Homo sapiens: one gene and its partners. The protein of the gene in region 2 purifies or fractionates together with the protein of the main gene of each other region. This does not show direct contact. Each region holds a gene or a part of one and is shown on either strand. Other genes may lie near its edges. The genes, in order: SERPINB9, PRKCE, HK2, AKAP12, ATIC, IBTK and SERPINI2.

The links.
Region 1: the proteins of PRKCE (region 2) and SERPINB9 purify together in Homo sapiens (affinity purification with mass spectrometry; one large-scale study listed by BioGRID and IntAct). This does not show direct contact.
Region 3: the proteins of PRKCE (region 2) and HK2 purify together in Homo sapiens (affinity purification with western blotting, with the first as the bait; one study listed by BioGRID). This does not show direct contact.
Region 4: the proteins of PRKCE (region 2) and AKAP12 purify together in Homo sapiens (affinity purification with mass spectrometry; one large-scale study listed by BioGRID and IntAct). This does not show direct contact.
Region 5: the proteins of PRKCE (region 2) and ATIC purify together in Homo sapiens (affinity purification with mass spectrometry; one large-scale study listed by BioGRID and IntAct). This does not show direct contact.
Region 6: the proteins of PRKCE (region 2) and IBTK purify together in Homo sapiens (affinity purification with western blotting, with the first as the bait; one study listed by BioGRID). This does not show direct contact.
Region 7: the proteins of PRKCE (region 2) and SERPINI2 purify together in Homo sapiens (affinity purification with mass spectrometry; one large-scale study listed by BioGRID and IntAct). This does not show direct contact.

What each region holds. Positions count from the first base shown.
Region 1 is NC_000006.12:2,886,770-2,890,039, reverse strand, and holds the end of SERPINB9 (serpin B9), read left to right. Parts: 3' UTR 1-2,770; downstream 2,771-3,270. UniProt on the Homo sapiens protein: Granzyme B inhibitor.
Region 2 is NC_000002.12:46,004,675-46,008,174, forward strand, and holds part of PRKCE (protein kinase C epsilon type), read left to right. Parts: intron 1-2,787; coding exon 2,788-2,987; intron 2,988-3,500.
Region 3 is NC_000002.12:74,889,627-74,893,126, forward strand, and holds part of HK2 (hexokinase-2), read left to right. Parts: intron 1-1,170; coding exon 1,171-1,315; 3' UTR 1,316-3,500. UniProt on the Homo sapiens protein: Catalyzes the phosphorylation of hexose, such as D-glucose and D-fructose, to hexose 6-phosphate (D-glucose 6-phosphate and D-fructose 6-phosphate, respectively).
Region 4 is NC_000006.12:151,302,467-151,305,966, forward strand, and holds part of AKAP12 (A-kinase anchor protein 12), read left to right. Parts: intron 1-3,280; coding exon 3,281-3,437; intron 3,438-3,500. UniProt on the Homo sapiens protein: Anchoring protein that mediates the subcellular compartmentation of protein kinase A (PKA) and protein kinase C (PKC).
Region 5 is NC_000002.12:215,318,559-215,322,058, forward strand, and holds part of ATIC (bifunctional purine biosynthesis protein ATIC), read left to right. Parts: intron 1-1,106; coding exon 1,107-1,173; intron 1,174-3,500. UniProt on the Homo sapiens protein: Bifunctional enzyme that catalyzes the last two steps of purine biosynthesis.
Region 6 is NC_000006.12:82,213,245-82,216,744, reverse strand, and holds part of IBTK (inhibitor of Bruton tyrosine kinase), read left to right. Parts: intron 1-494; coding exon 495-669; intron 670-1,915; coding exon 1,916-2,518; intron 2,519-3,500. UniProt on the Homo sapiens protein: Acts as an inhibitor of BTK tyrosine kinase activity, thereby playing a role in B-cell development. Down-regulates BTK kinase activity, leading to interference with BTK-mediated calcium mobilization and NF-kappa-B-driven transcription.
Region 7 is NC_000003.12:167,471,243-167,475,245, reverse strand, and holds the start of SERPINI2 (serpin I2 precursor), read left to right. Parts: upstream 1-1,203; 5' UTR 1,204-1,243; intron 1,244-1,418; exon of another isoform or gene 1,419-1,509; intron 1,510-3,401; 5' UTR 3,402-3,411; coding exon 3,412-3,658; intron 3,659-4,003.

The DNA of each region.
Region 1 (3,270 bases), on a different chromosome or scaffold from region 2:
TGCCCTCATGATTTGCCAGCATGAATTCATGATGCTCCACACTCGCTTATGCTACTTAATCAGAATCTTGAGAAAATAGACCATAATGATTCCCTGTTGTATTAAAATTGCAGTCCAAATCCCATAGGATGGCAAGCAAAGTTCTTCTAGAATTCCACATGCAATTCACTCTGGCGACCCTGTGCTTTCCTGACACTGCGAATACATTCCTTAACCCGCTGCCTCAGTGGTAATAAATGGTGCTAGATATTGCTACTATTTTATAGATTTCCTGGTGCTTAGCCTTATAAAAAAGGTTGTAAAATGTACATTTATATTTTATCTTTTTTTTTTTTTTTTTTCTGAGACGCAGTCTGGCTCTCTGTCGCCCAGGCTGGAGTGCAGTGGCTCGATCTCGGCTCACTGCAAGCTCCGCCTCCCGGGTTCACGCCATTCTCCTGCCTCAGCCTCCCGAGTAGCTGGGACTACAGGCGCCCGCCACCACGCCCGGCTAATTTTTTGTATTTTTAGTAGAGACGGGGTTTCACCGTGTTAGCCAGGATGGTGTCGATCTCCTGACCTCGTGATCCACCCGCCTCGGCCTCCCAAAGTGCTGGGATTACAGGCTTGAGCCACCGCGCCCGGCTATATTTTATCTTTTATCTTTTTCTTTGACATTTACCAATCACCAAGCATGCACCAAACACTGCTTTAGGCACTGGGGACACAAAGGGGACAGAGCCATCCTCCTTTGACACCTGGTCTTCAGTTCTGTGCCCAACGTATATAGTTTTGACAATGACCAGGTTGGACTGTTTAATGTCTTTCAACTTACCACGTAATCCTCTTGTAGGGATCACATCTTTCTTTATGATATTGTATTTCTCTACCTCTAACAGTAAAAATTCCATTCAACCCTTAAAGCTCACTTCAAATTCTTCTTTGAGAAGTTTTTCCTTTCTCCGCAACCAGATGTACATATTTGAACTCTCTTTGTACTTGGAGGGCACTTCTTTCGTGGTAGTTCTTTTATTTTTATTAATCTCTGTATCCTTAGATAGTCCTCCAACAACCAAAGGTTGGGACTCTGTCTTACATATCTGGGTGCCCCTCATAGTGCAGTAATAAGTAAGTTGATTATATACGAGCTATGTAACTTATATTTTTTAATGGTTGGATATCACTGAGTTTTTTTTTTTAAGAATTTTTTTATTGAGGTAAACTTCACATAACATAAAATTAACTATTTTAAAGTGAGAAGTTCAGTGCCACTTAGTATTGTTAACAATGTTGCATAACCACCACCTTTATTTAAAGTTCCAAAAAAAATGTTCTCCTCTAAAAGGAAACCCCATCCCATTAAGCAGATACTCTCCATTCCTTCCTTCCTCCAGCCCCCAGCAACCACCAATCTGCTTTCTGTCTCTATGGATTTATCTATTCTTGCTATTTTATATAAATTGAATTGTATGAGACCTTTTGTGTCTGGCTTCTTTCACTTAGTACAAGTTTTTGAGATTTATTTACATAGTAGCATGTATCAACACTTCATTTTTATGGCCAAATAAAATTGTATTATGTGTTTATAGCACAATTTATTTATCCACTCATTCATTGATGGACTTTGGGTTGTTTCTGACTTTTGGCTATTGGGAATAGTGCTGCTATGAATGTTTGTGTACCTGTATTTGTTTGAATGCCTATTTTGCATTCTCTTGGGTATATATCTAGGAGTGGAACTGCTGGGTCATATGTTAATTCTATGTTTAGCTTTTTGAGGAACAGACAAACTGTTTTCCACAGCAGTTGAACCATTCCACATTCCCACCAGCAATGTATGAGAATTCCAATTTCTGTCCACTTCCTCACCAACACTTATTATTTTCCTTTTCCTTTTTTTAAAAAAAATAAGTTATGGCCATCTTAGTGGGTGTGAAGTGGTATCTCATTGTGTTTTTTATTTGCATTTCCTATGTAATGAGCTAGAAACTAAAGTACAAACTAGATGGGACATCCAGTCCCTTTGATAGATAATGCTGAGTAAAAAATGAGATGAAAGACATTTGTTTGTTTTTAGAACACGAGTGACAGTTTGTTAAAAAGCTTTAGAGGAGGAATGAAAACAAAGTGAAGTACACTTAGAAAAGGGCCAAGTGGACATCTTGGATGTCAAGTGCCTAGTTCAGTATCTTTTTTTTTTTTTTTTTTTTTTTTGAGACAGTGCCTCACTCTGTCACCCAGGCTGGAGTGTAGTGGCATGATCTGGGCTCACTGCAACCTCCTCCTCCTGGATTCAAGCAATTCTCTTGCTTCAGCCTCCCAAGTAGCTGAGACTACAAGCACCCACCATCACACCCAGCTAATTTTGTATTTTTCAGTAGAGACGGGGTTTCGCCACATTGGCCGTGTTGGTCTTGAACTCCTGGCCTCAAGCGATCCGCCTACCTCAGCCTCCCAAAGTGCTAGGATTACAGGCATAAGCCACTGAGCCCAGCCCTAGTTCAGTATCTTTTATGTAAATTACAAACATCTGCAACATTATGTATCATATGCAGATACTTATTGCATTTCTTTTATTAGTGGTGAAAGTGTTCTATGCATTTATTGGCTCTTGAATTTCCTCATCTATGAATTGTCATTCATACACCTACTTTTCTGCTTCGTTTTTACATATGTCTTTGCCTATTAAAGATATTATCCCTCTGTTTTATATTTTCTCTCATTCTTGTATTGCCTTTTAAATTTTGTTATGATGTTTCATTAATAAACAGTGTTTTGTTTTCCTCTATAATCAAATCTAGATTTTCCCTTTGTGATTTCCGACACCACTTCCATTCTTAGAAGTACTTTTCCATTCATAAAGTAGTAAAATAAAATAGTTTTTTCTCTAAACTTTTATTTTTGTAATGATTTAACTAATTCACATGGAATTTGATTTTGTATTATTGACATTCAGGAGAAAGCATAATTTTATTTATTAGCCAATTTCTGGATATTGTAAATCTATTTTTCCATCTTTATTCTTCTGGTGAACTTTAGAATAATTTTTTAATACCCAAAGTAATTTTTTTAACTTTCAATTTTTTGGGAGGAAGGATTAGCATGACATTAAGCATATAAATTACTTGAGTAAATTGATGTATTTACAATGTTTAGTCATCTCATTAAGGAAAATGAGAAGAGTCTCCATTTATTCAAGCCCTTTTCTATACTACTTTTATTAAAACTTTTTTTTTGAGTTTTTTTCAATATAAGTCCTACATATCTTTTTTTTCTTGTTATGGCTATTTC
Region 2 (3,500 bases):
CTGCCATTGGATGGACCAAGGAGCTCTGAGGCCTCTTTAACCAAGAGTGAGCTTGTTAGCTGAAATAGCTAGCAGCCCTGGTGGGTTTTCACACACCCGTTGCCTGTTGATTTAACAGTTCTTTCATTCTCCAAGACCTTCTTGAGGGCTGGGCACTCCATGGCCATATCTGCCTTAATTTCCTTCCAGGCCAGGGTAAGAGGAGAGCGAGTGTATGATGTTATGGTTATCTGTTTTCCCTTGCCTCTGTCCCTGGTTCCAAGTGTACTGCAGAGAGAAGGGTACAGCTCCCTCTCTTAAAGCTCTTGCCTGGCCCTAGACCTGTCAACACCACTCCCTTGAGTTGAGTTTGACACTCCCTCCCCCATCATCATACCCAAAACCTGAGATCAGCTTGAGTTTGGGGCTGGGTGAGGGAGGATGTCTTCTATCCTGGCCTTTGGGTGGGTGAGGATAGAAAGATGAAGCTAGAGGAGAGACTGAGAAAAGAAGTGGGAAGGAGGCCAGTCCTAGGCCTGTTTCCCCTCTACAGCTCCAGATATCTCCTTCTGTCCGACTGTGCTTCAGACAATAAGTTCTGCAGACATAATTTGCACAATAATAATTCTGCAGCCATCCGAGAATGATGAGGCTGAGGAGGGACTTACACTTGCAAAACCTCCTGCTCTCGTGACCATTATCAGATATGCCTGGTAAGGGACATATGCATCTGCAGAAGAGGAATAACCATCACAGCCTGACAATGGTGCCTTGGTTTTTCTATATCCCTTTTTGTATTCATTATCCTAATTTTATGCCCATACCCACTCTATGTTGGTGCTTCATTACTGTCCCCCAGGTTAGTGAGTGGGAAGTGGGAGGTCAGAGTGTGGAAAAGTTCTGTCCCAAGGTTTGGAGATAAGTCAGTGGTAAGGGCAAGACTGTACCCATGCTGGCTGAGGGACACACTCTCAGAAACCCTGCCATCAAACCTTCCTTGGAGGTCACCACCATGACCCAGACCTTCTTACCCAGGAGTAAATAAAAGAGCTTCGGGGGTCATGCACCAGCCCTGAGGCCACAGAATAATTGGTCTCAGTCCCTCTTCGTGCTACTCCAATTAACTTTCTGTGTCTTTATACTCTACCTCATTCCAAATGAGATTTGAAGCATTCATAAGTAGCCTGATGTACTCTGGGGCTGCAGAACTTGTAGCTATTTTCCCAGACCAGTTTGGGGGTTTTCACGTGTTCCTTTCTGAGGCTGAGATCCCCTTTGGGAGCTTCAGGGAGACAGGGTCATATAGAAAAGAGACCCCAGGTAAGAGTTCAGAGACCAGGGTTTGTAGGCCTGGCTCCTGCCCTGCATGCTCTCTGGCTCTGAGCTCTGCCATTGGATGGATACAGTGGCAGGATACAGCGGCCCCAGGGCCTCTGTTCATCCCACTTGACACAGACGCCAGGATTTCCCAGTAGTGATGTTAGCACAGATGTCCCTCTGAGCGACATTATTACAGAACAGAAATAAGACATAGTTTCTTTTTCTTCCCTTGTAAAGACACATAGAAAAACCTTTTCTTCAAGCTTTGCTGTCCCCAAACAACTATGTTTTGCCTTCCAAAATTCATTTAATAACTGAGGCTTTTAGCTCTATTGTGAGATTAAAAGTTATTTAGTCAAGCTAAGTGATAGGTGGATAACTGCTGAACTGGCAAGGGGAGTGTCTGCAGACTCAGCAGCTTTCCCCGTCTTCACCCTCCCCAACACGTCTCAGAGGAGCCAAACTCCAGATCTAGGAAAGATCTCCGGATTCCTTGAGTAAGCCCTTATGGGACTCTGTCCTTCTGAAAAGAAGCTGAAGATCTCTTTCTGTCACTCATGCCTAATTCTCATTCCCAAGGGTTAATAGGCTATGTTCCCCTTCCATAATCCAAGTTATTCACAAGCATCATTTAAAATCGGATTTTGCTCAAGATGCCCATTTCCACACAGAAGAGTGCGTGTCTTGATGAATGAGTTGCTAACAGTAAAGCTTCTTCAAATAGAAAAGGTCAGAGGATCATCCAGCATTATCTCCCCCAGGTAATTCAGGTCATAAGCTCTAGAGCGGGGCACAAGACTGTCTCGTAGTTGAGAAATTGTACTGAGAAATTCCCGCCCCATTGGAGATAAGTTTGCAACATGTCACTTGGGAAAGCAATTCTTTTGTTAATAATAAGCCCATTGCTCATTTTGTTAGATAACCTTGTGTAAGATGGGTATTTAGAAGAAACCCGGCAACAAGGCTGAGTAAAGGTTTTTAGAAGGTATGAAGGTTTCTACCTTCAGTGATCAGCCACCGTTCTGATGGCTCAGTTGTTGAAATAATTATATCACCAGTGATTACTGTGATGACAGTTCTTGATTCGTTGTTCTCATCTTCAGAGGAAACTTGAAGGATACCTGTGACTCTGCAGAATTCCAGAGAGGGCCCAGATTTGTGTGCTTTACCTAGAACAGTGGAATAGGCTACTAGCCAAAGGGGGCTTTCAGAGAGACAGCCAGGTCCAGTGTAATCTGGAGTTGACAAGGGCAGGGAAGGGACTGTGTCCTCCTCCTCTTTGCATACCTAAGCTCTGCTGCGCATTAGGTGCCAATAAGAGTGTGGTGAACAGATGAAGGAACATACAAAGGGATGTCACACTGGATCTGTTGTGAAGAACCAGAAAGAGGACTGAGAGCTTACAGGGGAAAGTCTGAGTGTTGAGTCCTAATGTAACAGGCTTAAGAGGTATGCACTAATGCAATTTCTTGTTCCCCTTGGCCCTAGAAATAAAAGAACTTGAGAACAACATTCGGAAAGCCTTGTCATTTGACAACCGAGGAGAGGAGCACCGGGCAGCATCGTCTCCTGATGGCCAGCTGATGAGCCCCGGTGAGAATGGCGAAGTCCGGCAAGGCCAGGCCAAGCGCCTGGGCCTGGATGAGTTCAACTTCATCAAGGTGTTGGGCAAAGGCAGCTTTGGCAAGGTCTGTGGCACACACGGGTGGAACTGCTGGTTTTGTTCTACTCCTTAGCATTGTTTCGTCTGTTTGATCTAAGATTGAGAGAGGAACCTTTCAGCCTGATCTCGTTAGGTTTTCTTTCCTTTTTTGTAAGTGCAAATGACCTGAGGCCAAGTAGATAGGAGCGCTGGTTCTGCTATTAATTGGCTATATGAGACTTTCAAGTAGTGATTTAATCTCTTTGGAATTCAATTTTTCTCATTTGTTGAATGGGGACAGGAATCAAGTGAGATGGTAGATGAGAAAGCACTTTGGAAAGTTTTAAATGCTCAGTGTTCCAAATCAATAGTAGTGTCAATACATGTCTTCCCTCCTTCAGAGATCAGCTGAAATTCTGTTTTTAATTTGTTATGAAGACTTTGAGAATGAATCTCTGCCCTCAGCAAACCTAGGGTTTAAAGCAAATTTAGCATGCATTACTTTGGAAGGTAAATGTTATTTAACTGATCTTTCTGGCATGTAATAAATGTTCTGTTT
Region 3 (3,500 bases), about 29 Mb from region 2:
ATAATCAGAAGTAGGCCTGTGTTTCACCCCCCACCGTGGGAAGCCCCCTCCGAGCCCCTCCACAACTGTGTCATCATTCTCCCATGCCAGGGGTAAGTGTTGTGCTGAATCAGTCCCTTGCTTTTCTTTTCCACCCCCATATATGTAGGTATGCATCCATATTGTTTAGTTTTACTTATTTTTGAACTTGCCACAAATAGAATCACATGGTATCTCTTCTGTGGCTGGCTTTTCTCACACAGTGTTTGTTTTGAGACGCATCCGCATTGAAGTATACAGTTGGTAGTTCATTAATTTTCAGAGCTGTATAGCGTACCTTTGAGTATGTTGTTTTTTCTATCGTTGAGGTGATATTTAGGTTACTTCTAGATTTTGACCATTACAAACAGTGCTACTGTGAACATTCTGGCAAATGTAATGCTAGAACTCTGGAGCAAGATTTTTTTTCAACATTCTAGAGCAGGGGTTGACAGGCAACAGCCACAGGCTGTTATTGTACATATAGTTTCATGAGGATTGGGAGGGGGCAGAAGCCCAGCCACCAACCCTGGGACATGGCATCCTCAGCTTTGTAGATGGGGAGGGTGTCCTGACCCTGCTGTATTGGGGCAGATCACAACTCTCTCTTTCTCTGGTCCATATAGGAAGGATCTGTGATCACTGTGATATCCTAGCAGTGACTCTGTAAGTCTGCTTCTTTTGCCTCCGATGACATTTTGGAGCACATGTGGCTCTGATATGAGGCTATGCGCCAGGAAAATAGAAAATCACATTCATGAGTCCTGGTCCTGGTCTCCCCCTCCAGAGTTGTGCTCCTCTGTTAGGCACACTTGTGGCTTCCATGGTTGTTGAACTTCTCTTTTACTGACTATTAGTTTTAAGAACACAGTTTGCCAGGATCTCAGACGTTTGTCCCAGAATTGAATCCTAGCTCTCCTAATGGCTGATATGATGTGGAAATTGGGCATAGTACTAGTGTCTCCAAGCCACGGTTTTCTGGTACTTAATAATATATAGTAAATGTTTAATACATTATAGCTGTCATCCTTCTCCTCTTCTTAATTATTTCTGTGTTTCCAGCATCGCTTCTTAGCTTTCATTTCTAAGTGCAAATACAAACCAATCATGACTAAGATGGTTTTTCCTGTGTCTTCCTCCCACCTTTTCCAGCTTTGCCAAAGTCATGCATGAGACAGTGAAGGACCTGGCTCCGAAATGTGATGTGTCTTTCCTGCAGTCAGAGGATGGCAGCGGGAAGGGGGCGGCGCTCATCACTGCTGTGGCCTGCCGCATCCGTGAGGCTGGACAGCGATAGAACCCCTGAAATCGGAAGGGACTTCCTCTTTCTCTCCTTCTTCCCTGTTTTAAATTATAAGATGTCATCCCCTTGTGTCAGAGACAGACCCCTTGGCTTTTGCTTGGCAGAGAGGACCCCACTGGACTGGGTTTTGTCTCTGCATCTCATTGTAGAGCTTGGTGGCTGAGCTTGGCCCTATTAAGATAAATAGAGTTCCAAATAAGGATTTGTTCACATGCATCATAACCATTCCCATTGGTTCTCCTAAAACATGAAAATTATCTCCCTTAGTAATCCCCCTTGCCAAATTCCATGTCCCTGTATAATTCTACAGGATGGGGACACTAATGAAGATACGGTTGCTTCACCTTGGAGCCTGAACATGACATTTCTAAGTGGGGTGCATCCCCCAGCACTGATGTTGTTACTGATTCTCCTGTCAGAGATCTGGGAGGTCTCCACTGAGGATGTGAGCCTGATTATCCTATAGGCAGACGTGGGGAGGGTGGAGGGGTGACAGTGGAGGAAAATCCATGGATATCCACGCAGCAGCCCCTCTTTAACCTCATCTACAAGCATTTGCCCTGTGGATTCCAGCATTTGCCATTCCTGGAATCAAGGAATCCTGAGTCTGGGCAATGAAACCAAAGCCAGGAGTTGACGCATCCTGCAGTTGGGCCAGCTGTCGCATCTCAGCGGGGCGCACATGTTATCCACAAGCAATGGACCTTTGGGGAAGGGGGAGTTTTTAGTTTGTTTTACAAATTTTTCCTGCAAAAGTGGAATCACTGTATTTTCATTTTAATTTATATTTGAAATTTTATTTAGTTCTTGAGTAGATCTGCTTCTTCATCTTGACATGTAATGAATGGTCAGTTGTACGTAATGTATTTATATGTTAATTTGTTATGTATATAGATGTGCAAGTCTTGTCAGAATTGGCCTCAGTGTAGTTAAAGGGCAGAAGGGGAAGATACTGACTAGTCATAGAAATACCTCATTCGCCTGTGGGAAGAGAAGGGAAGCCTCTTCAGGGTGAGTGAATGGCAAAGCGGTTGCTTCTGGCTCCTCCTTCCCCTGTGGTCTTGGAAGTGTGTGGAAGGCAGGGACAGAGATGGAGGCCGAGCCAATAGACTGAAGAGACCACAGCAATTGGCTCCTCCATCTAGAGATTTTCTTGGCAGTATTCCATGGGATGTTAAGCAAAGGAAACCAAAGGAATCGTTTCAAATGGACTCATGGCTTAGAAATCTTTATTCTTAGGGCAGTCAGTAGTATTCTAAAGCTTTCTGACAAGATAAAGGAAGTCACCAAAATTTCTTTTTTTAAATTGTATCTAATCCTCAACAACAAACCAAAACAGAACAATTAAACAGCCAAATAAAACCTCAGGGACAACATTTTTGGTGTATTTGAGCCCTCCCAGCAAGTTTCACCTTGGGTTTGTATTTTAAATGTTTTACAAGAATTGTCCATGTGCTTCCCTAGGCTGAGCTGGCATTGGTCTGCTGACCTGTTTTTGTGTTTTTCTTTTTTTTATACACAACATTTATTTCAAACTATTGGGAGGGATGAGAGTGGCTTAAAAACTTCCATCCCTACTTTTCAAGAGTGCAGTTGATTCTGAATCTGAAAGCCCGCCTCTGTCCTAAAATACAAACAAGCACAGACATTAAACCTGGATACTATATGATAAAGAGGGATGTAACTATTGAATTGGATACAAGGATCAGAATGGAAAGAAACTCACGATGAAATTGAACCTGGTTTTTGTATATTTATCAAACTTGTGCTGAGAATAGTGTCTGATTATACGACTTTTAAGCAAAGTTGGGTGTAATTAGGTGAAAACAGCCCAGGTCCTCCCGGGAGCACAGAGGGGCTAGGGGCTGGTCCTTCTCGTTTGCTCTAGTCTTGCTTTGCTGTCTGGTGTAGCTCCTCTGCTGCTCCCATCTGCACTAATTGACCCAAAACGTGGGTATTTCCTGCTACACAAAAGCCAAAAGGTTTCATGTAGATTTTAGTTCACTAAAGGGTGCCCACAAAATAGAGATTAATTTTAACTTAAATTTTAAGCTTGAAGATTAGGTACTATCTGTGAAGTTACACTTTTTTTTTTTTTTTTAAAGGTAGAGATGTGTGTGTGTGTAGGTATTAAAGATGTGTTGTTGGTTTCCAAAAAGGAACACTGGAAAATAAATTT
Region 4 (3,500 bases), on a different chromosome or scaffold from region 2:
TTCTAAAAGAGTAGACGGAAATTTGTGCCTGTGTGCTATAGTCTTCATGTTTAAAGAGACTCAGTTTGGCTCCAACTAAAGATACCTTGGATTGGGCAATTCACAGAGGATTATAAGAATTTTTTCAATAATTTTAGGTACTTGGTAGAACCCTAAACTCTATAGAACTTCAGAGTTCTGGTTCCTAAATAAGAGGCACAATTGACCGAAGTTTATTGCATTGAAATTGAGGTATTAAGATGGCTTTTTTATGTTCCCTGTTTAGTTTGCCATATCATGAAACTGTGTATGTCAACAGTTTCTAGGTTTAAGATTCACTGGGTTACCATGTAGCCCACGATAATATGTGATTCCTGCTTTCCTCCCCCAACTTTTCTTCCTGTTACTAATCAAATCTAAGTCCTGTGTACATACTCAATGATATTTAGTTAGAATACTCTGACATTTGGCTGGGCGCAGTGGCTCATGCCTGTAATCCCAGCACTTTGGGAGGCTGAGGCGGGCGGATCAGCTGAGATCAGGAGTTGGAGACCAGCCTGGCCAACACGAAATCCCGTCTCTACTAAAAATACAAAAATTAGCTGGGCGCAGTGGCAGGCACCTGTAATCCCAGCTACTCGGGAGGCTGAGGCAGAAGAATCACTTGAACCCAAAAGGCGGATGTTGCAGTGAGCCAAGATCATGCCATTGGACTACCTGGGGGACAAGAGCGAAAATCCATCTCAAAAATAAAAATAAAAAAAAGAAATACTCTGACATTTTTGCAGATGGGCTTTGTGGAGACACACTGCCCCCTTCTCCATTCCCTACCCCCTGCTTTTGTCTTTAGGTTTCATTTAAAATGCCCATCTTTCATATTTTGGTAAGAGAAGACTTTAAGTGGAAATGTAATCTGAGTATTCTGTTTAATAAATGGACTCAGCATGGGCATTTTGAAGCCAACAATCCCATCTGTAGTGTAAGTATTAAACTACAGTGGTATTATTTCAGGAGGAAGCTCATGCAGTTGAAGGACAGCCTTGCTGGGAGCCGAGAACAGCCAGGTGAAATCAATTTAGCACAACTTAAGGCTTCTGGATTGCGTGTCTTGAACCCACTGTCCCTTCAGCGTTCAGGGTCTAAGTCAGTGGTGAGTCCAGAGTCATTCATTGGCCTGGAAGCAGGATGGAATGATGTCAGATGGAGTGCAGAGTTGAGATTGCTTTGTAGCATGCAGGTCTGTACCAGACCTTTTCCAGACCGGTTCCAGACCTGGAATACCCTTTAAGTCATTTTATAATTGTGTGTAGTAACAGGACCTTCAAAGCATGGCACGTATCTTTGTAATTGTGTGTAGTAACAGGACCTTCAAAACATGGCACCTATCTTTATAATTGTGTGTAGTAACAGGACCTTCAAAACATGGCACCTATCTTTATGTTGAGAGCCTCAAACAGAAAAACGCTGGAAATAGTTGGTGGCAAGAGTTGGCTTCGGGCCATGATGCCCCCATTCCTGAGCTGTGTGACCTGGGGCAAGACAACCCCACCCCACCAGAATTGCTTTGAGTCCCGGTGTCATTATTATAAAATGGAAATAATAGCAGCTGCCTATGTTGGTTTTAAGATAAATGAGATATCTGTATATATAACATTGCTGTATATTACATTGTTGAAACATTTAGGTTCCTAATGGTTATTGTTTCTATTGGCTTAAAATTTTTTTACCTATATTCTCAGGATTAAAAATACGACCAAGAGCAAGCCGGGCACAGTGGCTCACACCTGTAATCCTAGCACTTTGGGAGGCAGAGGTGGGTGGATCACTTGAGGTCAGGAGTCTGAGACCAGCCTGGCCAACATGGCAAACCACGTCTCTACTAAAAATACAAAAATTAGCCAGGCATGGTGGTGCACGCCTGTAATCCCTGCTATGTGGGAGGCTGAGGCAGGAAGATCACTTGAACCTGGGAACTGGAGGTTGCAGTGAACCGAGATCACGCCACTGCACTTCAGCCTGGGTGAAACAGTGACACTCCATCTCAAAAAAAAAAAAAAAAAAAAAAAAAAAAAAAGGATTATATGACCAAGGGCATGCCTACATGCCTGCTGATTTTGTGGGTTTTTTCATTTTTGTTTTTTGTTTTTCTCGCTCCGTCACCCAGGCTGGAGTGCTGTGGCTCAATCTCTGCTCGCTGTAACCTCCACCTCCCACATCCACCTCCAGGTTCAAGTGATTCTCCTTCTGCAGCCTCCCAGGTAGCTGGGACTACAGGCATGCACCACCATGCCTGGCTAATTTTTTTGTATTATTAGTAGAGACGGGGTTTCACTATGTTGGCCAGGCTGGTCTTGAACTCCTCGTGATCTGCCCGCCTCGGCCTCCCAAAGTGCTGGGATTACAAACATGAGCCACCACGCCCGGCCATGCCTGCTGATTTTGAAACTGATGCCATCAGTTGCACAGGGCATCCTATGGGGAGGATTGCAAATGACCATTGTAGTAATATTTTTAAGGAAAAAACAATGACCCAAATGGACATGTTATATGTGTCTTGTTTGCTTGCTGGGCTCTGGGAGCACTGGCCTTCGCGCCAAGCGGCCTCCCTTCTCTGCACCCCGTTTATCCTTTTCTTACACAGCCCTTGCCTGTGGAAATGAGATCTCAGCTTTACCATTGCTTCCTCAGAGAAGTCCTGGACACCCCCAGCCTCAGTCAGGGCTGTTTTTTTTTTTTTTTTTAAAACCTACTTGATTCATTCTCAAGGGCTCTGTTTATTGTTATTTGTTCTATGTATGCCTCCTTCATGACAGTTTCCACAGCTGCAGTTTAGTAATTATTTGTTTAAAAGTCTGCCTTCTGACTTGTTCAGTCAATTATGCTTAACCTGCATCTAATCACAAGGAAACATTATTTATTATTTTAAAGTAAAAAAGAGGTTTTTAAGTCTGCCTTCCATAGTAATTTGTAAGCTCAAAGCTCTGGGAAACACATCTGATTTTTTCATGGTTATATTTGAAATAGGTCTGGAAAGGTGAATGTATGTATCTGGTGTTCCAATGAATGAATTAATGAGTGGATGAATGGCTGATGGGCACACTTACCCAGATACAAGGCCCTATCTGCTTGTAAGGTAGCTGGATCTTTCAGACAAATATAAGACTTAACTCTTCATTGTTTTTGAACTTCCTTTTCTCTGTATTTCTTCTTTCACTGGTTTGTATTCTGGAAGTTAATGCCTTGTTTCTGACTTGGTCATGAGGACTGAAATTAAGTTTCTATGGCTTTGTCTTTTCCATAGCTCCTACAGAAGAATGGTCAGCTGTCCACCATCAATGGCGTAGCTGAGCAAGATGAGCTCAGCCTCCAGGAGGGTGACCTAAATGGCCAGAAAGGAGCCCTGAACGGTCAAGGAGCCCTAAACAGCCAGGAGGAAGAAGAAGTCATTGTCACAGAGGGTAAGCCGCCCCTCCAGGAACTGGAAGGCACACAGCACTTGCAACAAACTTTGGACTCAGCAG
Region 5 (3,500 bases), about 170 Mb from region 2:
TAGAAGAAAGCATCACAGCGTAACTGACTTGCAAAGGAATTTTTTTTTTCAAAGTGCTTTACATTTGTTCGTTCACCTAAGAATGAATTGTATATAAACCGAAACGGCAAGAAACTGGTATCCTCCTAGTTTGTCAGTTGTGGTACAATTTGGTGAATAAAGCTGAATGGCTACAGATCATCAGACAAGCCATTGACTTACAGAAACGCATAGACTGTTCTGGAACTAGCAACAGTTTTGTAAAATTCCTTTTACCTTTTTTACATTTTATTGCTCAAGAAACTGGGATCAAGAACTGAAGAAAAAGATTTTTAAATATATCTCTCTTTTTTTTTTTTGAGACAGGATTATACTCTTGCCCAGGCTGGAGTGCAGTGGTGCGATCATGGCTCGCTGCAGCCTCTGTCTGCTTCCCAGGCTCAAGCAGTTCTCCCACCTCAGCCTCCCAAGTAGCTGGGACTATAGGCATGTGCCACCACACCCAGCTAATTTTTGTATTTTTTATAGAGACGGGGTCTCACCTTGTTGCCCAGGCTGGTCTCGAACACCTGGGCTCAAGCGATCCCCCACCTTAGCCTCCCAAAGTGCTGGTATTACAGACATGAGCCACTGTGGCCAGCCAGATATATCTGTTAATCCTAATTTTTTTGTTTGATAACTCCCCAACTACATGTTTGATATTCTTTAATTAAGAATATTATGCTGGGCATGGTGGCTCTTGCCTGTAGTCCCAGCACTTGGAGAGCTGAGACAGGAGAACCGCTTGAGCCCAGGAGTTTAAGATCACCCTGGGCAAGATGGCAACACCCCCCTTCTCTTTAAAAAATTGAAAAGACCAGCTGGGTGTGGTGATGCATTCCTGTAGTCCCAGCTACTTGGGAGGCTGAGGTAGGAGGATCACTTGAGCCCTGGAGGTCAGGGCTATAGTGAGTTGTGATTACGCCACTACAATCCAGCCTGGGCGATAGAGTGAGACCATCTCAAAAAAATAAATTTTTTTTTTAATCAATGGGATTTAATTTGATTGAAGACACTATGTTGAAAGACATTCCTTAATCTGACTTGTTTTTTGAAGCTAATGACTTTGTTTAACTTTTTTAAATTAGGAATCCTAGCTCGTAATATTCCAGAAGATAATGCTGACATGGCCAGACTTGATTTCAATCTTATAAGGTAAAAACCTGAAATTAAACTTTTAACACATTACGAACCAACGACAAAGACTATGCCAAACCTGGTGTCCCTGTGTTTTCTTACTCACTATAAACCTTTACTGCGTACCTTCTGTGTGACTTTGTATGTGTGTAAGCATTTTGGTTTGGCCAGATTTATATACCAAAATACATACTGAAGTTTTTTAGGAAGTTACAATCTAAATCTTAGTATGTATAGGTTGAGTATCCCTTATCTGAAATGCTTGGGACCCAGAAGTGTCTTGGATTTCAGATTTCTTCAGATTTTGGAATATTTGCAGGTAACATGCCAGTTGAGCGTCCCTCAGAAATCCGAAATGCTTCAGTGAGCATTTCCTCCAAGTGTCATGTTGACGCTCAAAAAGTTTCAGATTTTGGAGCATTTCAGATTTCAGGTTTTCATATTAGGAATTATCAACTTGCACAACTAACTGAGTTATTTGCATAAAGATACTGGCTGTTTCTCTTAAATATACGTAACAGCTTTATTGAGATCTAATCCACATACCATACAACTCACCAATTTAAAATGTACAAATCAGTGGTTCACAGAAGTTGTGCAACCATTACTGTGTTAGTCTGTTCTGCATTGCTATAAAGGAATACTAGAAGCTGGGTAATTTATGAAAACAGGTTTATTTTGGCTCGTGATTCTATAGACAGTACAAGAAGTGTGGTGCCAGCATCAACTTCTGGTGAGGGCCTCAGGAAGTTTATAATCACAGTGGAAAGCAGAGGGGGAGCTGGCATATCCCATGAGAGAAGAAGCAAGAGAGAGGGAGAGGAGGAGTTGCCCAGCTCTTTTACTTTTTAACTTTTATTCTTAATTTAATTTAATTTTATTTTGAGACAGGGTCTCGCTCTGTTGCTCAGGTTGGAGTTCAGTGGCATGACCTTGGCTCACTGCAACCTCTGCCTCCTGTGTTCAAGTGATTCTCCTGCCTCAGCCTCCTGAGTAGCTGAGATTACAGGCGTTTGTCACCACGCCCAACTCATTTTTACTATTTTTAGTAGAGATGGGGTTTCACCATGTTGGTCAGGCTGCTCTTGGAACTCCTGACCTCAAATGATGCACCCACCCCGGCCTCCCAAAGTGCTGGGATTAGGTGTGAGCCACCACGCCCGGCCTGCCCGGCTCTGTTAAACAACCAGCTCTACATGAACTCAGAGTGAGGACTCATTATGGGGAGGGCACCAAGCCATTCATAAGGGATCTCCCCCGTGACCCAATCATCTCCCACCAGGCCCCACCTCCAACATTGGGGATCACATTGCAAAATGAGATTTGGAGAGGACACACATCCAAACCATATTAATTGCCACATCCAATATTAAAACATATTCATCACCCCCACCCTAAACCCTATACCCATACGCATTTATTCTCCATTTCCCCAACGTCCTCCAGCCTCGGCAACCACCAATTGTTACGTGTCTGATTTGCCTGTAGTGGACATTTTCATATAAATAGAATCTAACAATATATGGTTTTTTTGTTCCTGGCTTCTTTCACTTAGCATGTTTTCAAGGTTTATCCATGTTATAGCATAGTATCAATAGTTCATTTCGTTTTTAGTGCTGAAAAATAATCCATTGTGTGGTCATACCCTGTTGTTTATCAGTTCATTTGTTGATGGACATTTGGGTTGTTTCTACTTTTTGAATATTATGAATAATGCAGCTATAAATATTTGTGTATAAGTTTTTGTGTGGACATACACATTCGTTTCATTGGGGTATATACCTAGGAGTGGAATTCCTTGGTCATATGGTAACTATGTTTAGCTTTTGAGGAACTGCGACCCTGTATTTCAGAGTGCTGCACCATTTTACATTTCCAGCAGCAGTGTGCTGGATGGGGCTCCAGTTTCTCCACATCCTCATCAACGTTACTATCTGTCTTTTTGATTCTAGTCATTCTAGGGGTTCTGAAGTGGCATCTCATTGTGGTTATAATTTGCTTTCCAAATAATGTGGAACACCGTTGGATGTGCTTCCTAGCCAGTTGTTTACCTCCTTTGGAGAAATGTCTGTTGAGACCTCTTGTCCATTTTTAGTTGAGGTATTTATCTGTTTATTATTGAGTTGTAAGTTTATTTCCTCTCATTCTATGGATTGTGTTAGCCTTTCTTGATGGTTTCCTTTGATCATCACAAGTTTTTTCTTTTTTTTGAGACGGAGTCTTACTCTCGCCCAGGCTGGAGCACAGTGGCGTCATCTTGGCTCACTGCAACCTCCACCTCCCGGATTCAAGCGATTCTGCCTCAGTCTCATGAGTAGCTGGGGTTACAGGTGCCCGCCACCACA
Region 6 (3,500 bases), on a different chromosome or scaffold from region 2:
TGATATCATAGTAGCCCAGTTTGGTTACGCACATATTTTCTGAATACATGCAAGAAAGGGGGAAGAGAAAGGGAGGAAGCAAATAAACAAGCAGATTATGAAGACAGTAGATTTATATATTTTTAATCCAAGTTGAAGAATTTTTTTCCCTTTGGGCAACAGGAAGTATAAGTTGAAAAGTTTTAAAAGCTAGTATGACACTAGATTTGCTTTTTAGAAAGGGAACTTTGGTTGCAGTATGGAGGATGTGTTTGTTGAAAGAGATGGAATCATGGATAATTGAGAATCCATCCACCAAAAATTTCCTGTATAATACAGCCAATATATTCAGTGGAAAATGTGTTGAAGAGAGGATGTAGTTCTTCAAAAACACTGAATATATGTGAAAAAGATTTCCATATTTTTCTAACTCCTTTTCTATTCCATTTACTTCTCAATCATTTTAGTAGTTTCAGTAAAGCCTTGATTAATGGTAGTTTATTTTTTTTTAACAGAGATTTTATCAAACCTTCACAATTCCTCATCAGATGTGTCTTATGTCTCTGATATAAATAGTGTGTATGAAAGAATTCGACTTGAGAAACTTACCTTTGCACATAGAGCTGTTAGTGTCAGCACAGATCCAAGTGGATGCAACTTTGCAATCCTGCAGTCAGATCCTAAAACAAGGTATACTTGTATATATTAAATTTCATTTTTTAGAAGGAACAATCACTGAATTTTCTTGTTTTCAGTAGCTGCTGGTGCAAATTTAATTGAAGAGCTGTTGCCAAGACCTATAGAGACCTTAGACATAATCATGTTTACAGATTATGTCTACAGATAATCCAGAGGTAGAATTTGTTATACTTGGAGTGATGAATGTTTCCTTTGGTTTATAAACTGACATTTATTGAAAATATTGAAAATATCTATACATGCACTCACAAAGTTTATTGTCTTTCTTTTTTTTTTTTTTTTTTTTGAGATGGAGTCTTGCTCTATTGCCCAGGCTAAGTGGCAAAATCTCGGCTCACTCTAACCTCCACCTCCCAGGATGAAGCAGTTCTCTTGCCTCAGCCTCCCAAGTAGTTGGGATTACAGGTGCCCGCCACCACACCCAGCTAATTTTTGTATTTTTAGTAGAGATGGGGTTTTGCCCTGTTGGCCAGGCTGGTCTTGACCACCTGACCTCAGGTGATCCGCCAGCCTCGGCCTCCCAAAGTGCTAGGATTACAGGCATGAGCCACCGCACCCTGCCTTATTTGTCTTTCATACTGTATGATGTACCCTGGGTTCTCAGATTCTGAAAAATGTATTATAAATATTTCTTAGGCAGTTTGCAAAGATTTCTGACCCTTGAATATGATGAGAATTGGCAAAATAAGTGTTGTGGCGCCATCTGTAAATCGCAATGCAAATCTCCTAAGTCACATAAGCAGAGAGGTATCAGATTAAGATAAACATCAAGGGTACTGTTGAAGAGGGAGGAAATTCTGCAAGTAGGGTCATCATCCATCCTGGTTTGCCCAGGCCTGCCCCAGTTTTAACATTGAAAGTCTCATCTGAGAAACTCGTCAGTCCAAGGCAAACCACAGGAGGGTTGGTCTTCCTACTGAGAAGGGTGAAATGTTGGTTGGGAAGGTGTAATTGCATTCCCACAGTACTGTAAGAACCAGGGATACGGACAACTTAGTTCTTATCATTTTAATTTGAGAGAAGAATAGAATATAAATATAAAAAGGAATAGAAAAAAATTAAAGGATGATATAGCATCTAGGACTTTGTGCAATATTCTTGTATTTTAGGAAATGCCAAATTTAAAATTTTCTAAATATTGTTAAAAAAATTGCATTTTAAAGGAGAATTGGCTAGGTATGAAAAAGGATTTCCTTCATATTTTTTGAAGCATAATTTGTTTTTGTCTTCTTTCTAGCCTTTATGAAATTCCAGCTGTGTCCTCATCATCCTTTTTTGAAGAGTTTGGCAAACTGTTGAGGGAAGCAGATGAAATGGACAGCATTCATGATGTGACATTTCAAGTTGGCAATAGACTCTTCCCTGCACATAAATATATTTTGGCAGTGCATTCTGATTTTTTTCAGAAATTGTTTCTTTCAGATGGTAATACTTCAGAATTTACAGATATTTACCAGAAAGATGAAGATTCTGCAGGGTGCCATCTCTTTGTGGTAGAGAAGGTTCATCCTGACATGTTTGAATACCTTTTACAATTTATATACACAGATACTTGTGACTTTTTAACTCATGGCTTCAAACCAAGAATACACTTAAACAAAAACCCAGAAGAATATCAGGGAACTCTGAATTCTCATTTGAATAAAGTGAATTTCCATGAAGATGATAACCAGAAGTCTGCATTTGAAGTTTACAAAAGTAATCAAGCTCAAACAGTTAGTGAGAGGCAGAAGAGCAAACCTAAATCTTGTAAAAAAGGAAAAAATATTAGGGAAGATGATCCTGTAAGAATGTTGCAAACTGTTGCAAAGAAATTCGACTTCAGTAATTTGAGTAGTAGGTATGATTTCTCTTTTATATCTGTTCCTGTACCTCATTCAGTCCTCCTTTAAAAAATTTCCCACCCTTACTGTGAAACCCCATCTCTACTAAAAATACAAAAAATTAGCCGGGTGTGGTGGCGGGCGCCTGTAGTCCCAGCTACTCAGGAGGCTGAGGCAGGAGAATGGCCTGAACCCGGGAGGCGGAGCTTGCAGTGAGCCGAGATTGCGCCACTGCATTCCAGCCTGGGCGACAGAGCGAGACTGTGTCTCAAAGAAAAAAAAAAAAATCCCACCCTTTTTGCCTTGCTTTGCTTTTCTTTCCCCTCCCCAAGTCTCCTCCCACTTGTTCCATCCCCTTCTCTTTCTCCTTCCCCTCCTCTTCCTCTCTCTCCCTTTCTCCCTACCCATCCTTTTTTTGGGGAGGTACATGGATATGTCTTTCCTCCATTTGCGGGCAGAGCTATCTCTGGGACTTCTTGGATTACATTAATGGATAGGAAAGCTGTTGGTGGGTTTGAACTCTGGTTTGTGTATGTAACAGGGATCTGGAGTGGCAGGCAATGTGGTATGCTGGAAAGGTCTTTCAAGTTAGACATACATATCTCTTAGCTTTACTATTCCTGGCTGGGACAATTTTCTTTTACCTCAGTTTCTCGAACTCCTGGGCTCAAGCGATCCTTCTTACTTCAGTTTCTCAATATAAGAAATGGGAAAGATAATATTTGCCTCATATTGTTGATATGGTTTTGTCATATGTAAATTGCCTAACACCATAGTATCATATTATGAATCAGATTATTTGAAATTCTTTCTTTTTTTAAGGTATTTATGTTGCTTGTGGCAGTTAAACCTTCGTTGTAGGGTGGGAAGAGAGGAGGGGTGTGTATCGTGTTTCCTGTTTAAAAATAATGAAGGGGCCGGGCGCGGTGGCTCACGCCTGTAATCCCAGCACTTTGGGAGGCTGAGGTGGGCAGATCTCCTGAGGTCAGGAGTTTGAGA
Region 7 (4,003 bases), on a different chromosome or scaffold from region 2:
TATTGCACAACTCTTTTTGGAAAATTATCTCTGTGTTAAGTTAAAGCTACACTAGAGTGTGCTTATGATAGAGTAGGTAATATTAGAATAAAACTCAAGATCTAGAAAACATTTGGAGATGCCTATATGGGAAATCAAAAAATTTTAGTTAATTAGTAGATTATGGCCTATAATGATCTATTCTCAGGCCTATTTTTAAGTTATAGCCATGTTAGGACATGGAAAGATGTTAACAGGGTCCTCTGACAAGTTTTTAAAAATGAATTCCATTTAAAGCTATCTATATTCACTTTATTTCTTTTACATGAGTTTATCAGAAATAGTATTAAATTTGGGGATCAACAGATATTTAATTAAAAGTGAACTAAATTTTTTTTCTCTTCTCAAAGGCTATAGATAAATAATACAATGTGCTTAATATCTGATTGCCATTGAGGTGATTGATTTGAACTACAAAAATGAGATGAAACCCATTAAATTATGCAATTTTTTATTAATGACCTTTTTGCAAAGAAAATCATGTAGAGTTTCAAAAGCACATAAAGGTAACAGCAATTTTTATCATCCAATTACCTATGGCTAATAGTATTGTCCTGATATATTTTGGCAAATCCATTATCTTTTTTGCTGGCCTTTCTGCTCAGAATAAAGAACATATTTCTTCAATATCCACTCTTTTTCTTAAGGATTCAAATGGACCTTATATCCACAGGAAACTCCTCTGACTATTGTATAATTTGATGAATGTTGAGAACTCTGTCAATGCAGCAGTGATTTGTCTCTGTATTCTGGACTTGATTTAGCTTTATTCTTTTTCTCATAGGCATTCTGAAATATTTATGACAAAGTGCATTGGTAATCTGATGTAGGAGTCCTGTGAGAAACAAAAAGAACTAATTACTAGCAAATTTACAACCAGTAGCGCATCCTTTCAAATTCTGTGCAACTTTTAAAAGAAGCAAAATAATGGATAAAATAATAATATAAATTTAATACTTTTAAAAAATTCTATAATTGTTTTTTTCTCAATTCTTGCACATTTCATCAGTTGATCATTAACCCGATTGTGTTAGTTCTTAATACAAATGTAGTGAACACCTGCTTTTGTTCTAGAGGAATTAATCAAGCAATGGTCAAGATAAATGGAGTTGGCCTTGATCGCTCAGGTGTTTATGTACAAGAGTTTTCCAGCAAGCGTATTTTAGTTGTAACATTCCAGTGAATAATCAGAAGTCAGTTTGGGGTAAGTACCTTAGAAATAAATAGCTTTTGAATAAGTATGTATGCAATAACATTGCCTATGAATGTTTAGTAGAGTATGGAATGGCATTTCAATTTACTTTGGTGTAAAAATCATTTGAATTTATTTAATTAACATATCGCTTTTATTCTCCTTAAATGATTTCACCACAAATCAGAAGATCCAGTTCTTATAGGACTATTCATCAGGTTGTTTAGTTCAGCATTACTTTGTGCTTTCTGATAAGATATGATCCAAAACCTGATGAGGTAAGTGAGTTTTTAAAACCAATATTTGTCTGAGGTTATAATTTATTAAGTGCTTAGAAATTTTCTAGAAAAAATGGATGTGGATGCTCAAATAATATAAATTTAATTATTAAGATTATTAATAATAATGAGAAGGAAACTCTAATACTGAGATTCTACCACAAAGAAAAAAATTACATTTTTAATAATACTGTTCATTATTCCAATATAAACCAAATACATAAAGCTATATCTAATGTATTTCCAGTTGATAACTTAAAGGTACTAATAACATTTTGACTACGTATCTACAAACACATATTTTGGTCAGAAGTCTTCTGAGAAATTGAATATATTAGAAGATAATGATACACAGACATTTATTTTGCATGTAAAACTTCTCTTACTCACTGGTTTTTAACTATTGTTGCACTCTCATTTATAAGCTCATATGCTAAATTAATCCCTAATGAAACATTTGCTTGATATTAATAGCATATAGGTCTATATCTAAAGTTTACCAACACATTTTCTAACAATTGCTTTGGATTGTTTTTTGAGGCTTTTGTCTTTTGCAAATATATATCTAAACAAATACAGTTTAACAAAATACATTGAAGGATAAATAATGACTCCATAGTTTAATTTGGAACAATATTTGACTATTAGTAATCTTTATATATAAATATAGTTGTTCTTAGGGACTCCTACCATTTATGGTACCCTTAATGATCTGCAAAACACTCTAGAAATGTAAGTCTCTACTTAAGGCTGACAACAGACTATTCTAAAGGCTTTCATCTTTACCCCTAATTAAGGGTTACTTCCTAGTAACTTACTGATGGATAAGTTTTTAAGGATTACTAACATGTATTATTTATAAGGTAAAATTATTGTTACTAAAATTTATGAGGCCTTGGAGTCAACATTCTACCAAATATGTGGTAATATTGCAAAACTAATTCTGCTTGAGATATAATCAAATGGTTGAATTTCCTGCAATTTTAGTGGAGAGCACTTTAATAGGGTATTATTAGTCTTGTGAATTGTTTATGGTTTTTAATTGCTGCTACTCTTACATTTGTTAGTATTTCTGTCAATTCTTTGATATTATATTTCATTTTATTTATATTTTTTCTTTTATAATTTCAAGTTTTATTACAGATTAATGTACATGTGCAGGTTTGCTACATGGGTATATGGCCTGACACTAAGGTTTGGGGTATAAATGATCTCATCACCCAGGTAGTGAGCATAGTACTTTATTGTATCATTTATATTTGATTGCCATTTTGTTTCAAACTTTGCAGGTTTTCTGCATTGTATTTGTCTTCTTTTGGAAAAGCAGGAAGAGGGCTTTGGGTTATTTTGTCCTAAGAAATAAAGCGTGAGGAAAATTGTAAAAAGTTAGCCAGATTACTCAGTTGCTTTAGAATACATTAATTTTCTAATATTATAGGTCTAAAACCACACTGGAGTAAGTCTGTTTTTATTCCATTTCTTCCTCTTGATCTATAAATTACTGTAGAGTAGACAGCACAGAAGGTTTACCTGATGTCAGAGTTACAGTTATCCCACTTAACCATGAGAAAAGATAGAAAAAAACTATTGTATAACTATTTGGAGATACCATTGCCATTGATAACATTCCAACATTGTAGTGTCTTTTTTGATTTTTGCTACAAAACTACAAGTATATTTTCTACTGGTTCTTGAAGATATGTAAGAAATACCATTAACACATGAACTATTTTTCTGAATAGATGATACTTAGAAATCTAATTGGATAGAGTTCACTTGTGGTAGTAAGTTCTATTAAGATAGAAAGCTACAACAGGTAGAAAGTTTTCTGTTGAGCTCTCTGTGGAAAACTCTATTTTGAAAATGAATATATTTTGATTTAAACAATACAGAGAAGTCAAAATGGACACAATCTTCTTGTGGAGTCTTCTATTGCTGTTTTTTGGAAGTCAAGCCTCAAGATGCTCAGCTCAAAAAAATACCGAATTTGCAGTGGATCTTTATCAAGAGGTTTCCTTATCTCATAAGGACAACATTATATTTTCACCCCTTGGAATAACTTTGGTTCTTGAGATGGTACAACTGGGAGCCAAAGGAAAAGCACAGCAGCAGATAAGACAAACTTTAAAACAACAGGAAACCTCAGCTGGTGAGACTCTTACATCTCCTTACTTATACTGGATAAGATATGGACGCATTCATTTTTTAATATTAGAAGTTCAGGATAAAGAAATTTTAATAAGTGAAAATGTAATGAAAAGTACAAAATTGTAATAAAATGGAGAATTGTAAATGTAATTTTCATTCATTTATAATTAATTCCTTTAAAAGGTTACAAAAATTATTAAGAAATTGACATCTATATAAATGTAAAATTAAGTAAATATTTGTACATTTTCTTTTAGTTTGTTTTAGCCAGTTTTAATTACTTGAGATTATACTGGGCGTGCATGTGTGTGTGTGTATGTACATACTCATAAAATATACATCTATA